Linked DNA regions of Homo sapiens. The protein of the gene in region 2 interacts with the protein of the main gene of each other region in a pairwise test. Each region holds a gene or a part of one and is shown on either strand. Other genes may lie near its edges.

The links. Proteins that work in one complex are often made in the same cells at the same time.
Region 1: the proteins of RFX6 (region 2) and KCTD9 interact in binary tests that used the Homo sapiens proteins (3 or more experiments, as listed by UniProt).

Annotation. Positions count from the first base shown.
Region 1 is NC_000008.11:25,426,811-25,434,465, reverse strand, and holds the end of KCTD9 (BTB/POZ domain-containing protein KCTD9), read left to right. Parts: intron 1-1,030; coding exon 1,031-1,136; intron 1,137-1,812; coding exon of another isoform or gene 1,813-1,828; coding exon 1,829-1,962; intron 1,963-4,492; coding exon 4,493-4,609; 3' UTR 4,610-6,619; downstream 6,620-7,655. UniProt on the Homo sapiens protein: Substrate-specific adapter of a BCR (BTB-CUL3-RBX1) E3 ubiquitin-protein ligase complex, which mediates the ubiquitination of target proteins, leading to their degradation by the proteasome.
Region 2 is NC_000006.12:116,879,510-116,888,117, forward strand, and holds part of RFX6 (DNA-binding protein RFX6), read left to right. Parts: intron 1-1,034; coding exon 1,035-1,158; intron 1,159-2,857; coding exon 2,858-2,919; intron 2,920-8,608. UniProt on the Homo sapiens protein: Transcription factor required to direct islet cell differentiation during endocrine pancreas development. Specifically required for the differentiation of 4 of the 5 islet cell types and for the production of insulin.

The DNA.
Region 1 (7,655 bases), on a different chromosome or scaffold from region 2:
TTGTGTTAAGGACAAAAAAAAAAAGATGTTTGTCAAAAACGCTTTGAGATAAATGAACATAATTTAAAACTCTTGGCTGCGTGTGGTGGATCATGCCTGTAAACCCAGCACTTTGGGGAGCAGAGGCAGGCAGATCACTTGAGGTCAAGACCATCTTAGCCAACATGGCGAAACCCCGTCTCTACTAAAAATACAAAAATTAGCCAGGCGTGGTGGTGCATGCCTGTAATTCAAGCTACTCAGGAGGCTGAGGCACGAGAATCACTTGAACTTGGGAGGCAGAGATTGCAGTGAGCTGAGACAGCACCACTGCACTCCATCCTGGGTGACGGAGTGAGACTTTGTCTCAAACAAAACAAAACAAAAAAATAAAGTCTTAAAACATATATTTTCTACCATTTTACTCTCTGCCCTGCATTATGCATTGTGATGTGCCTGCTCAGGGTTAATAATGTTTAGCCATGGTTGGTGCAGAAAGACCCAGCCAGCATCTTGTTAGTGTTTTCTAGCTAAATAATGCCTTTAAATGCTGGCTTTTGTATTCTGACCTCTGACTTGAGGGCAGTAGTAGCATCTTAGAATATCAAGAATTTCACTTAGAACATCAAGATTCCTACAGTAATAAGAAAATCCATACCCCTAACAAGTCTATGCCTTCCTTACCCATACATTTTGACTGTTTCATTGTCATGCATAGGTATGTTTATAAAAATAGAGATAGAGGTGTCAGAGTTCTGACTCACCCAACTTCTTTATCTAAACCGTTATGTTTCATGTAAAATGAGCATGCTATTGTTAATTTGCATTTATTTTTTAAAAAACAGTTCTTTAAAAAAATTTTTCTTTCAAATGTTCCCAGTTCTTACTGTATTTAATTAGAAAAGCCTTTATTGTAAACAGAAAATAAAATTGAGTATGAGTGTTTTGAGTTGAGCCTTTCCCTCTTTTCTATTTTTTTTCTTTTACTGTTTGAGCTAATTTGAACAAAATTATGAACCTTACAACCAGGACTTTTCTCTTTTCTTTGCAGTGTGCGAATCTCCAGGGAGTCAAGATGCTCTGTTCTAATGCAGAAGGAGCATCCCTGAAACTGTGTAATTTTGAGGATCCTTCTGGTCTTAAAGCCAATTTAGAAGGTGAGATCCTTTCTGTAAATACCTATTCTACGAAGGAAGCAGACTGTAAAGGAAAAAAGCCCTGGAAAATAATTGTTAAGGGTGAAACAGGATAGCTGTAGGGGATAGGTTTCTTCTGTCATCATATTTGGAGAACTTCCAAAGTGGTAAGAAACCTCCATTTGGTTTCAGTCAAATGCTAATCAAAATTGAGGACTCAGAAAAAATAAAACCTCAAATATTTAATAAGGTTTTAGTTGGAAAATTAAATATCAACATCTTAAACTTTCAAATGGAATAAAATATTCTTACACTGACCAAAAGGAAAAATTTCATTTGCATAAAGCCAGGGAGTTTTTAAAAATCATTTTTAGATTTAATGTATTGTTTCTTAATTTGTTACTATCTGTGACTGATCACTTTGTTTACTTGTATATTTAGGAGACTACTTCACTCCCTTATCATAAACCTGTAGAGGCATATTATGAAAGTGCTAACTATCATAAGACAGAACTAAATTTCTTCCCTCAAAAGTATTGTGAAAGCATTCTTTCATCAGTAAACTGTTTATATATATAAGTTCGTTGAGAGACAAGATTTTAGATTAATTTCCAAAAGTTAAAAGAGGCCTCCATTAAGTCATCTTGCAGTTCTGTTGAAGGTAGATAACTATATTTTTAAGTTAAACTACTCCCAGAATGTGTTCACTGTAGGTGCTAATCTGAAAGGTGTGGATATGGAAGGAAGTCAGATGACAGGAATTAACCTGAGAGTGGCTACCTTAAAAAATGCAAAGTTGAAGAACTGTAACCTCAGAGGAGCAACTCTGGCAGGAACTGATTTAGAGGTGAGTTCACCAACACTTTAAGAATTTTTATTACTCTAGACTTACTAAGCATCTCATGCAAAATTTATTGAAATCAAAACAAAGTAGTTGGCTGGTAAAACTGGATTGGAAGACTCATCTGACATTCAGTCTAAGTTGATTTCATTTCTCTCCTTTTCCTTGAGTTTTTCTCAAGTAAATAAGTTTGATAGATGTGTTATCTAATGTATTGCATTTTCCATAAAATTTAATTCCGAATAGAATTAAATGGGCTAGATTACTTCTTAAACTACTTGAGAAATTTAAATGATATCCAGGTTTGAAATCAGGTTCAGGAAAAGTCTATTTGAAATTGGAACCATATGTTTTTTGGTTTTCAGCTTGAGATTATAATTTTGCCTGGTCATCTTTTTCAAAGAATTATATTTGTATGTCTTCTTAATTTGCCAGTTTAGCTAGCAGACTTGATAGCTGTTGATAGGTCTATATCAGCACTATCCAATAGCACTTTGTGCAGGAGGGACATGTTCTATATCTGTGCTGTTCAGTATAGTAGCTACCACCCATATATAGCTATTGAGCGCTTGAGATTTGGCTAGTGCAAATGAGAAATTGATTTTTAAATTTTATTTAATTTTAATTCATTTAAATTTAAGTAGCCACATGTGGCTGGTAGCTATGAAATCTGGTATAAATTGGATAGCAGAGAACGGTATGTCAAAATTTAGCTTGCTGTTAATGTTTTTTCATAATATTTTTGCCTAGATATCTTGATAGCTCTCGGTAGCAGAGTAGCAGGCCCCTTTCAACTTCAAGGCAAAAAGAATTGGCCTAAGTATAATCCTATCACGAGCACAATTATTTATTGTTTGTTACATTACTTTCACCTAAGATTATATTTTTTTCCTTGGTTTTAGTACTGTGTACTCAGTGTGGCCTAGCAGCAAAAGCCTCCCTCTCTCTGATTGCAAAGACTGATCAGGTTGACTATTGAGGGGAGAGCTGCTGACATTTGTTCTCCTAACAGGTTACGTTTAGTCACCCTTCTCTCTAACCATTGTCCCCTATCATATCCAGGGACTTAAGTGGAATCTCTATCTTATTGCTCCGTGATCTCAAGACAAATTAAGAAATAGCTTCAAATTGCGGTGGTTACACTGTTCTGTACATCTGTCAAACTCACTGTATTATATACGTACCTTTGGGGCTTTAAAAAGAAGGGCAGTTCCTTGCTATAAAAATACTAGGGCTAGGGAATGGAAAAATCTATTACACAATTTGATTAAGTAAAATCTTTTCAGATTAAAAAAAAAGTCTTCCCCCCATCTCATTCCTTTTGTTGTTGTTGTTCTTGGATCATAGTAAAATTGTTTTGATAATATTTATTACTTTGGGGCCAGGCGCAGTGGCTCATGCCTGTAACCCCAGCATTTTGGGAGGCCAAGGTGGGCGAATCACTTGAGGTTAGGAGTTTGAGACCAGCCTGGCCAACATGGTGAAACCCCGTCTCTACTAAAAATAGAAAAAATTAGCCAGGCGTGGTGGTGAGTGCCTGTAACCCCAGCTACTCTGGAAGCTGAGGCAGGAGAATAGCTCGAATCCTGGAGGTGGAGGTTGCAGTGAGCCGAGATTGCACTCCAGCCTGGGCAACAAGAGCAAAACTCCGTTTCAAAAAAAAAATTGTGTGTGTGTGTGTGTGTGTGTGTGTGTGTGTGTATTTATTATGTTGGAATCCATTCTGTATTTTAAATCAGTGGTCCCCAACCTTTTTGGCACCAGGGACTGGTTTTGTGGAAGAAAATATTTTCACAGATCAGAGTCGGGGGCTGGTTTTGGGATGATTCAAGCGCGTTACATTTATTGTGCACTTTATTTCTACTAGTATTACATTGTAATACATAATGAAATAATTATATAACTCACCATAATGTAGAATCAGTGGGAGCCCTGAGTTTGTTTTCTTGCAACTAGACAGTCCCATCTGGGGGTGTTGGAGACAGTGACAGATCATCAGGCATTAGATTCTCATGAGGAGTACCCCACCTAGATCCCTCACATGTGCAGTTCACAATAGGGTTCACGCTCCTGTGCGAATCTAATGCCCCTGCTGATCTGACAGGAGGTGGAGCTCAGGCTGTAACTTGAGCCATACAGGGACTGGCTGTAAATACAGATGAAGCTTCATCTACTGGTGACCTCCTGCTGTGTGGCCTGATTCTTAACAGGCCATGGACCAGTATCAGTCTGTGGCCCAGGGGTTGGGGACCCCTGTTTTCAATGTCTCCTTATAAAATATGCAAGAACAAGGGACATGCTTCCTCTTTAACCTTTGTTTATACATATTTATGGTGATCAGCCTGAACTAGAGGTAACAAATAAAGATAGAAGAACATCTTAATTTAGGGTGGTGTATCATCAGTTTTCCGGAAATTAACTGAGTTTTATTGTATAAGAACATTTTCCTAATCTGCCCCAGAAATCATTTTGAGCAGAAATAGATAAGGCCTGAAATTTCCACATGAATTACATGAATATTGTTTTCATCTTGCAGAATTGTGATCTGTCTGGGTGTGATCTTCAAGAAGCCAACCTGAGAGGGTCCAACGTGAAGGGAGCTATATTTGAAGAGATGCTGACACCACTACACATGTCACAAAGTGTCAGATGAGAATTTTAGGGGCTGGAGGAAGATGTAAAAGATGAAAATGTTTTCCTTATCACTTTTCTTTCTCCACCCACTCAGTTGTCTAGAAGAAATAACACTGTAAGGAAATTTAAAAAAAAAACATTTAGAGGATTATGCTTGTTTTGAGTGGTGCATAAGGGAAAAAACTGACTTTTTTTCCATATTCTGATTTTTAACAGAAAAGCACTCATTTAATAGATGTAGGGAAACTAGATATTGCTGCCTTTTGAATGGGGTAGGGGGGTTTACCTGGTTTTATGACCAGGCATAGTATCTATTATATTTGCTTTTAAATAGGCATGATGTGGAAATACCATCTTGGTTTGAGATGCATTTGAGGATTTTAATTTATGGAAAGCACAACATATGCAATTATATTTATTGAATTCCTAGATGCAGTATGGATATTTAAATTGTTAAAACTTTATGAAAACTTGGAAAAGGTTGTTCAGGTTTATAAATAGCTTTAGTGATGCCTCCCCTCTTTAAATACCTGTCACACCGTATGAATATGGTGAGATCAGACTCCCTAAGACTCTTTTCAGGTTCATTTTTATAATGTTTACTTTTTAGGACAGAACAGTAGCTAAATTAAAGTAATATCCAGTTCTTACTGATTGAGACAGAGTGGAAAGAAAGACATCATTGTACATCACTGTCATTCCAAAGGTACAGTGTAACTCTGGATGGAGGAATAACTTACCTATCACTACAACACTTACAAATGAGAATTTCTCAGAATTTCATTCTAGGCAAGTTCCACTCAACACCAGATCAAGCAATTCTATCTATTTACACTATTAGCCTAGTTTTCTCATACAGTCATCACAAGCATAGGAAGATACTTCAAAACCAAAAAAACCAAGGTGCATCATTAATATTCATTTAATTCAAATACCAAATAGTTTACATAGGGCCAGCTTAGAAATAGATACTAAATCCAGAGCTACTGCAATCAAAGCTTATATGAGTGAATATGGTAGAGTTGCCTGCTAAAAGGCAATGTAATATAATTGCAGCTAGAACCCTACAGTGGGGAATGAGGAATTTTAAACACACATTTGATTACAGCCACCAAAAAAATAGACGTAAAAATAAAGGCATTTGGCTGGTCCAAGATGTAATTATCAATCAGTCAGCACCTGTGATTCTTTTACTTATTTTTTTGTGGTTTTTTTTTTTTAAACAAATTTTAGCCCAATTTTCTTGAGTCATTCTCTCTCTGCAGCAGCAGAGGAAGGGCCTGTACCTCCCTACCAATGACTTGGTGTCCTTATTTTCTACCCCAAGAGCAGGGATATTAGCTGTGTCCAAATGGGTTCTGAATTCTACAGACTCATCAACATGAGGCAAGGAATCATTGAAAACCACCTGTGTCTCCTTTGGGAGAATGACATATCTTTAGTATTTACGTAGCTTATTCTTCTATATCTACATATGCAAAGCTTTCCTTAACAGTAAAGGGTACATATGCATAGTGGGAGGAGATCAGACCTTTACAAGTGAAGGAAAGCAACTTCAGAAATGAATTATTTTCTTTGCTTTATTATTTTTACCAAGACAGAGAAGTATTGTATTGAGAGATAATCTATTTTCATAATCAATATGTGCCTAAATTATATTTAAATCATTTCACTCTGTACTATATTTTCAGGAATTACAGAATGTGGTATTCATTCACTTAAAGGTACCTCTGTAGAAATAACCTAAAACTGCAGAAGGATCTGAAAGATCTAAACATGGTGTGCTTAGAAACTGCAGATTTTAGATCTAATGTATACTGCATTAATAAATGATATAAAGTGTTTGTTGAAAAGGAGTTTCTTCTCTTCCTTTTGAAAATCATCACTTTCTGTATTTTGCTTACATTTCTTCAATATGTGTTGACAACCAGCCCTGTGGTTCTGGGTAGCAAAGGAAATACAGTATAACTTAATTTGTTATGGATTAGTCTTTTTGAAAGTACCATTAAAGTAAATTTATTTCTTTAAACATGATTATTTTTATCATTCTTTTAAAAATACACCATGCTAACAACACAAACCTTATGAATTCTGAACAAAAGAAAAGACTGCCTCCCCAATAATTCGTTTAATTTGTTTGTGTTAAATTCATCACTCTTTAGGTGATGAATATTACCAGTTAGCTTTATTAGACTGGATAAATAGCATGCCCCAAAACATTTTTTGCCTGATAACTAGGATAGAGAATTTTAAGGAGGGAAGAAACCGTTAAAATAGTAAAACTTCCATTAACCCTAGAGATGAAACATGTCTGTACACATAGGTAAAAATACAGCTGTTGGGATGACAGGAAAAAGGTTTTAAATCAAAATTAAACTAGCTGGATTATCTGCATTAATAAAATTTGGTACTCAACTAAGCAATACTATCTATTGTAGTCTAGTTCTTTCAACTATAGTCTCAAGGAAATTCTGGTAGAAAATGTTGTAAATTAATTATTCTTATGAAGGGTTCAATCATAAATCAAGACTTGGAATATTTTCTCCATTTCATTTTATGACTCTTATGTGTACTGTAAATCTGCCCTATGTCAACTTTAAATCATCTTTAATATATGGAAAAAACTTAGAATTGCACTAAGTAAGTCCCCAAGGAAGAATTACCTTTAAAATTAAAAGGTTCATTACTACAAAGAAAAGTGGTTACATTATTTCAGTATAAAGCACCTTATCCAAGGATTAATTCTCTGAAACCCTTTTACAACCTGATTAGACATGTCAGCAGGAGTTAACCTTAAGTGCTTCCTGCTGAGATTTTACATTAGGGCAAGAAAAGATTTTTTTCATCTGTCATTTCAGTGATATTATGAGATCATCGCTGTAATAATTTTGAGGTGTTTTGATGTTGATGAAGCAGTTTTTTCTCTAAAGCCATTCTTTCAAATTTAGAAAAAAATATGACAAATATAAAATCCAATTATTTAAACCCAATTTATTATATTTAACTTTTTGATAAACTGACCTAACCATGGAATCCTTAAATGGTTTTAAGTTTGTCATTCAATA
Region 2 (8,608 bases):
AAATGAGTGATATTTTACCTGTTCAGGGAATACTTTCTTTAGCCTTTATCTTGTACACATTAGGATATTTTAAATCAAATCTTTGAAGGGTTTCATCCAATTTTAATCTGCAGACTCTATATTGCATCGTTTCTGCATTATAATAAATATTATCTTACTATACATAAAATTGGTATAAGTAAATTTTAGTCAAAATCACCTACTGAACTGTTAGGAAAACTGGGATTGGAATCTAAAAGTTTAATTTCTACATTGCTGTTTAGAAAGTTGTAACACAAATATGTATTTATTACATTTATATAAGTTATGCTTAGTTACAAATTAAATGGAATTACTTCAAATTTTCAAAGGTTATATAGTTATTTTTATAATATAAAGTTGAAGGTATATATGTTATGTTTGGAGATATCTATAGAGAATTACATTATCTTTTAAGTGTATAGGATGTTTTAGATAATTATAGTACTGATGACAGTAGTAAAAAGTATAGGAATAGAAATATATCAGTGTCATTTCAGACTTAAGTAAAATGAGTTTATCCTCATGTGTTTTGCAAATAAATGCATCATTGTCCTTCCCTAATTATTCAGGGCTGAGAAATAGGTTTTGAATGAAAGTGAGAGAATGTAAGCATTTGCCAACCTGAAGCTTGACAGCCCTTTAGTACTAAGAATGTTTTAAAAAATACCCATCATCTTCAATTTCACCATTCATATTTATATGTCACAGAGCAAATCATGATGAACCATGAGGTTTATATAGAAGACCTAATATTTGTGATGTGGACCAGGCATGGTTTTATGTTAGCCATGATATTTTAACTGTACTAGCAGATTTTTCACTGGGGTTTTGTACTTTTAACATTAATCCTTATAATTTGATTTTTAAAAAATATCCAGAATAAACGAAGTCTACTTATGTCTACTCATTACCTCATTTATAGAGTCCATATTCAAAATGGGTAATAAGTCAATGAGAAAGTTGAAGGAAAAGGAAATAAAATATTTGACCTAATTTTTGTTCCTTTTTCTTAGGCTTGAAGAGAATTACATTGTATGTGAAGGAGTTTGCTTACCACGGTGCATTCTTTATGCACACTACTTAGATTTCTGTAGGAAAGAGAAATTAGAGCCAGCCTGTGCGGCCACCTTTGGAAAGGTAAATGACACGTATTGGCTATAGTGACTTATAACTAAAGTCATGTCAGGCAGATAGCATGAAAATGAATTCATCTGTGCAAGTTCTCTTAGAGAATATTGAGACATTTGTTTTGCAGGCATAAATTGTCTTAAGGACTCTGTTTGGAATTGCTATATGTTTATAACTTGATTTTGAATATTAGAACCCTAACTATTAGAAGATCTAATGTGAATTTAAAGCAAGCTTTGTTTAAGCAGTAGCATTTGCCTTCAAAGAGGGATGCATTAAAGTGTATAGTATGGCCTGTGGTAAGAAGCAAAATTAAGTGGAGGTGACAAGTCTCTTGCTAATGCAATTAGTGGTTAGTGGTTATCCATACTATTTACCTAGTCCAAATATATGAGTTTTTAATAGGTTTTAAAATGTATTAAAATTTCTCCTAATTCTCCATTTCACTCTATGTTTACATTCCAAATCCCAAGATTTTATGATGGGATGGGTTAGAATTCTCTCATTTAAAAATATTTCTTTCTACCCAACCTGTGTGGTTAGGATGGGAATCTATATAACTGACATTATTATGCTTATATATAGAGAGAGAGACATCACTTTGAGAATCAATATGAATGTCTTAAGAAAGCCTTGTTCTTTAAGATTCATGTCATGCTGTGTTTGAGAACCTAGGATATCCCAGAAAAACTTTAGGAAGCTTGGGTCTCAAATATTGTATCTTACACAAATTGAAATCCAGATTCTAACCTGTAGAGGGACTCATTGTCCAGAAAATAATGAATACTACAGTCCAGCTTCTCATTTAAAAAATAATGTTATTTATTTCAAAAACCTATCTATTTACAGAGAGAGTGTGATATTATACATTGTAATCAGGTAACCTGGGTTCTAGCCTAGACTGGACTAATTTATTGTGAGACCTTCTGAAAAGCACTTAATCTCTTTAAAAATCTGTTTACTCATTCTATTAAATGAGGAGTTTGGATAAGACAACTTCTAATATCCATATTAACATTACCATTTTGTGAGTCTACCTTATGGGAATAATTCTTAACTGTTTGGCAGTCATGAAGCACCTTGAAAACCTGGTAAAACTGTAGAGCCAGCCTCCAAGAAATTAATACATACATAGTTTGCCATGGAGCTCTTTAAAGTTCATGTATGGATCTTCAAAGATTGAGGTTAAAATTGTTTTATGTAGAAGACTTTTTAAAAAATGTTTAATCAGATCCTAATTTTAGCAACTTTAGAGAAAGGAACATACAAAACAAAAAATTTATAACATTATAATGGAGATACAGTAAGGCAGAGAAAGTTTTATATGTCCTTTGGGGTTGGGAATAGATTTTTAATTGTGGGTAAATCTCTGTATGGAATTATATGAAGAGACCCAAATCTTCTCACTCCATACATAAATAAAGTAATAATTGCTTTGGTAGTACCATCAAGCAAAAGCAGATATTGGTATGATCTGCCTTAGAAATCAAGACAAGGTCAGTAGAGCACTTCAATCAAAAAAGTACCTCCCTGCCTCTGCTGATGTATTGCTTATCAATATGTGTAAGTTATTACTTTTTCCAGACTAAGTATTCACTCACAGTTCATTCAGAGTTCAACATTTACTTTCCCCAAGTAATTGGCTATGAGTGGCTTGCATTAGGACCATATACTTTCTAACGCCTAAAGTAATCATCTTTCTTTTTAGACAATTCGCCAGAAGTTTCCCCTCCTAACAACAAGGCGGCTTGGAACAAGAGGCCATTCAAAGTAAGATACCAGTGAACATATTCAGGTTCTGCTCTTGTGCATGAAGATTGACACAGATGTAAAATAAGTATTGTCTTTGTCAGTACAAAGAGAACCAGGTATTCTCTTGATGAAGCAGACTTTTATCAACTGTGAGAACTGAAAAAAAAAAAAAGATTTTAGAATAATGTTTAAAAAGCAAATTTTACATTTGAAAATAATAATGTATTATTATTTCTGCTGAAATAATTTAAATGAGTCATTTTCATAATCTTAAAGCTGTTACTGAAGGCACCAGTGTTATGAGGAGGAATGCAACGCTCCCAAAGAGCAAGGCCCAAACCAGGGGGTAAAGAGCTTTGAGTAGGAAGGAAGTGCCTTAGCATGCTTCAGGTTCTTCCTCTAGTTTTCTTTCTGAGACAATAATTTCTTGATATCTCCTTCTCTTCTCTTTAAGACAAATGACATGCACAGATGACCTGTTTGGTCATCTCTTAAGGTAAATATAAACATAAACTAAGCTGTCACACATTCCCCCTCTTTATGTCTTTAAATTTTCCTCTCTGTTGTGGCAGTCTCTGGAGAACTCCCAGGTACAGTTTCTCATTCAACAGCTATTTTCTATGCGTACTGTGTTTTCAGTTTCTCCTTTCCTTCTGCCTATGAGCATGTCCAGATCTCCTTTATGCTGAGAAAGAAAAAAGTTCCAACCTTCATGATTGCTCTAGTATTTCCCCCTTTGAGCTGTTGCTTCCCTTACCACTGATCACATCCCTCTGACCTAGTCCATTTCCTACCTGGGCAAAAATCCAATGGCTGGTTTTTACTGTTACTCATCTTCCTTGGCTCCTGCTTAGCATTTGAACCAACTGATAATGCCCTCTTAAAATAAATACAGAAAACTACCTCTATAGCTTCTCTGTCATAGTACTATCTAGGCCCTCTTCCCTCTTCTACCACTCCTTTTCTGGCTTGTCCACTGCCTCCTTCTGCCCTGACATCACATCCAGCACTGATCAATGAAAGTATAATGTGGCCACATATTTAATTCAAAAATTTCTGGAAGCCACGTTTAAAAAGTAAAAAGGAACAAGCGAAATTAATTTTAATGTTTTATGTAATCCAATTTATCCAAAACATTATTATCTCACTATGGAATCAATATAAAAATTATTAATCGGATATTTTACATTCTTCTTTTCATACTACGTTTTTGAAATCTAGTGTGTATTTTACACTTACATCACATCTCAGTTTAGACTAGCCACATTTCCTGTGCTTACCCCCACATATGGCCAGTGGCTTTATTGCTTTATTGGATAGCTCAGCTTTAGACACTTGCAAAAACATAGGTCCTACTTTTTGAATTCTTTTGAATATGACTCTCCTCATTGCTACTTTCATAGCCTGGCCTTGACTCTGTCTTTCTTGTCCATTCATGCAATTTTTCCAAACTGACCTTTTAAAGTTGAGATTCAATCATATCTCTTCCATGTTCAAAACCTCCACTGGCTCATAATTTCTACTATTAACAACAAACTTTCCTCAACTTGACATTCAAGGTCCATCATGATTTAGTCCAAGTTCATTTTACTATGTCACCTATTTCTTACTTTCTAGCATGTAGTCTATGTGCTCACCAAATAATTATCCCAGTAACCTTTGATTCACTCCAACTGCCAGTCTTCTGTTTAAGTTTATGCTGTCTTCCCCTGGAGAATGCCTTTTCCCATATATGTATGTTGAAATTTTACCCATTTGAAAGAATGTCTCTTGAACTTCTTCCTTTAGATCTTTTTTTAGTCCATTGATTTATTGTAGGTCCCTTCTCTGCACCCTGTGGCAGTTTGCTGGTACCTATCTTAATGTGAAATTAACTTATCTCCTCCTCTAAACAGATAATACATATTTTGAGGACAGAAACTTTGTCTCATTCACTTTTATATTCTTTCTGTTGGTCGATATATAATAGATTATCAATTAATACTTATTTAATTGATTGCAATTAATGTTAACATTATTGTGGCCTGGAAAGAATAAATAAAGTGCCAGATTCAAAAAGGCAAAATGGGTCCCTTCCTTCTAACCAAGTCAACTTTATTTCAAAGTTTGATCAGTTTAACTGACTGATTTCTACTGAATTTGATTCCTACTGAATTGTATTGGTTGAGGAAAGATCAGATAGTGTTTAAAGTAAATAGATAGGGGGAAAAGAGGCCGAGCAATGAAGAGAAACCCTCTTGACAGGATCTATAAGAGGGTGGGCTGGCAGGCTGCAGGGAAAGTCAATTAATCTTTGAAGGAGCCTTTAGGATTAGGGATGAATCATTAACCCTGTCCATTGTGTCACAGTGGGGCTCTAGTACTTAGGTTGATGTAACAACATGGGGTGACTTCGGGCAATTTATTTGAATCCAAGAGCCATAGATGTGCCCAACAGCAAGGCATTAACAATTTGAATTTTTTTCTGCTGTGCTGATATGCCATTTGATATTTGTGACGTGACTTTTTTGATATGTTTATATCATAGAGAAAAATTAATTTTCCATATTTAAACTACATATGGTAAAAATATAGCAAAATGTAGTTTGTATATCTTGTAAATAGTAATTTTTTTGACATAATTATTCTTAGCTAGGTATGTTTCTGCCTTTATTTCCAAGAAATATCCTTAGCTTTTATCTTGGAAGATAGAATATCAAAAGGCAGTATAGCCTAATGGTTAGGGACATAGGCTTTAAAGTTGGACAACTTTAAACATGAATCTGATGTTTCCATGTATAGCTGTGTGACACCAGCTTTCCAGCTAGTGATTTATTGTAAGGTTATTCAGCTTTTCACCAGTAAAGTGGGTATACAATATCTTATAGGATTGTTGTGAGAGTTAAATGAGATAAAGTATAGGAATGAATATAGTAGTGAATATGCTTTCAACCGCACTATCCTTAATAATAAAAAATTAATGACTCAATATAAAATATCTGCACTACAATTAGAAGTTATTTACTGAGTATTACACACACACACAGATGCATGCACTCATCTCTAATCCTTGCAATAATGATAGAAGATAGGAATTACTGTATTACAAATGAGGAAATTGCATTTCAAAGGTTATTGGCTTGCCCAAGGCCACATAGATAATACATAATAACAATGCTGGCATTTGAATCAAAGTATATCTGACTCTAAAGTTTATGTTTTATCTGCTAGTAAAAGTAGGGAAGCCTACTACTTTTTTTCCAATATCAATCGTATCAACAAATAATTATTCAATTGAATGTTTGATTTTTGACATATAAGTTTTATTAAGTTTTTTTTTAACAGATCTAACAGTTCTTAAACTTTATTAACATATTAGATTCTTCTTCAGAGAACAAACAACACTTTACCATGCCACAATTGTAAGGCATTTAATTTAGAGGTATTTGTGTTTTATATTAACAGCAAATTTGTAGCACAATTTTATTTTCTGCCTTTTAATTTTAGTCCTAAACATGTCTCTGTTATATATTATCTTTGCAAACATTTCTAATGGCTATTATTTCATAAACTTACATTTTATAAAAATATTTTTATGTTTCTATGGAAATATGAACAACTGAATGAAAGACAGAAATATAAAGTAAGTATACCTTAGAAAATCAGGGAATCATAATTTCTCCCAATTTTACTAGTAATTTTGCAAAACATTTTATTGTTATTGTAGTGTTTAATACAGTACTTTTAGCATAGTATTACTAAATATTTGTTGAATTATTTAAAAAATATAAATAAATGTGATATTTATTTTAACTTCCTTGGATTGCATACTAATACATACAAACATTGTGAAACTGTTCTGATGATGATTACTTAAAAAATGAGTTCTCAGTTTGGCCAAATTATTATAGGATAGCTAGAGTATGTCCAGTCATCTCACTGGGGACTATCAGAATTTATTTTAGATTATGATTGACTCAAAAGGTTCTCCTGTACTCTGGGCATGAGATAGCACCCTCTTTTTAAAAATTGTTCTTAGATGTCTTTGAGGTTCATGAAGCAATGTCACTCTCTAAATTTTACTGGTCCCTATATAAAACCCAAAGTTTGGAAAACACTAATCTATGTGACAAAGAGATGATTAGTAGGGCCTAAAAATCATGAATGAATGTGGTGTCTATTTTCAAGTTCTATTTTCCTAAGTTTTGAAATAACTGGCTGTTAATTACAGTAATGTCTTCACAGCTCTCACATTTGTGCATGTGCTACTTCTTTCCCTCACTGAAAAGTGAAAGATGAAAAAGTTTGACTGTATAAAATGAGCCCAAAATTTATTCAATTAAATGGAAGAGATAAAATATTTAAAACAGATATATTAAAACAAAAAAAAATAGGCTGGATGTGGTGGCTCACACCTGTAATCCCAGCACTTTGGGAGGCTGAGACAGGAGGATCAGGAGGTCAAGAGATTGAGACCATCCTGGCTAACATGGTGAAACCCTGTCTTTACTAAAAATACAAAAATTAGCTGGGCGTGGTGGTGCGCACCTGTAGTCCCAGCTACTCAGGAAGCTGAGGCAGGAGAATCACTTGAACCTGAGAGGCGGAGGTTGCAGTGAGCTGAGATCGCACCACTGCACTCCAGCCTGGCGACCGAGCGAGACTCCATCTCAAAACATAACAAAACAAAACAAAAATAAAAAAATAATAAAACAAAAAAATCTAAACAGACAGGATCACTGTGTAGGGCCAGATATCATCCACTGTCAAAATTAGGAACAATTAAAAATGGAGTAATTTGTTTTCAGTGGCAAGTTCAACATTCCACATCAAAGGCCACTGCTGCTGATGGTTATGGAAAAAAAAAATCTCTAAAGATGAACATGAGGGGTCAGGAAGCGTCACTCTAGGGCACCTAACAAGTGTGCTTTGGGGACAAAGCCAGTCAATTTGCAGGTCCATTAGCAGCTCAGCTCTCTATCCAGTTCCTTCACGCTTACCATCCCCTGCCAGCCAAGAAAACCAGCAACCCCAGCGGCAGACACTGTACATTCCCAATACCAAGATAAAAATTGACTTTACTTTCATGTTTCTTCTTTTCTTCCCTTTAGTTTTACTACCAATTCCAAAAGTATACACCTGGTTTTATTATCTGTGATATTTTTTAATTGAGGTTTTGAATAAATAAAAAATGAAACAAAGTTCTATAAGGATAATAATGAAGAATCATTCTTGCATATTTTATGGTTATGAATACATTGAGAATAATCAGTCCATTCCTACTGACATGGATGTACAAAGCGTGATGCTAAAGAGTTTTTGAGATGCAAAGAATTGTAAAACAGGGTACCTGCTGGCAAAGAACTTTCGCTACTCATCTTAATTATTTAATAAGCATTTTACTGAGGGTCCCGTTGCTAACTAGGCCCTCGGGTACAATGATAAGCAAAAACCTTGTATCCCACCCTTGCTCAGAATGGCTTGGCTAAGTAAAGGAGAACATAATTGAGCCCACAAATAGATTTTACACACATGGTAGACTGTTTGATTTTAAGTTACATTTTAATTTTTTGTAGACTTTGATCAGCCAAATCTTGGTTTTCAGACATGATGGACAAAAGCTATTATCTTATTTATTAGTAGTGATTTAGTGGGTTAATAAAACTGATACGGCAGCTGCTCTTATCATAGCAAGTTATTGCAAGTCCCTGAACAGCTTAATCCCATC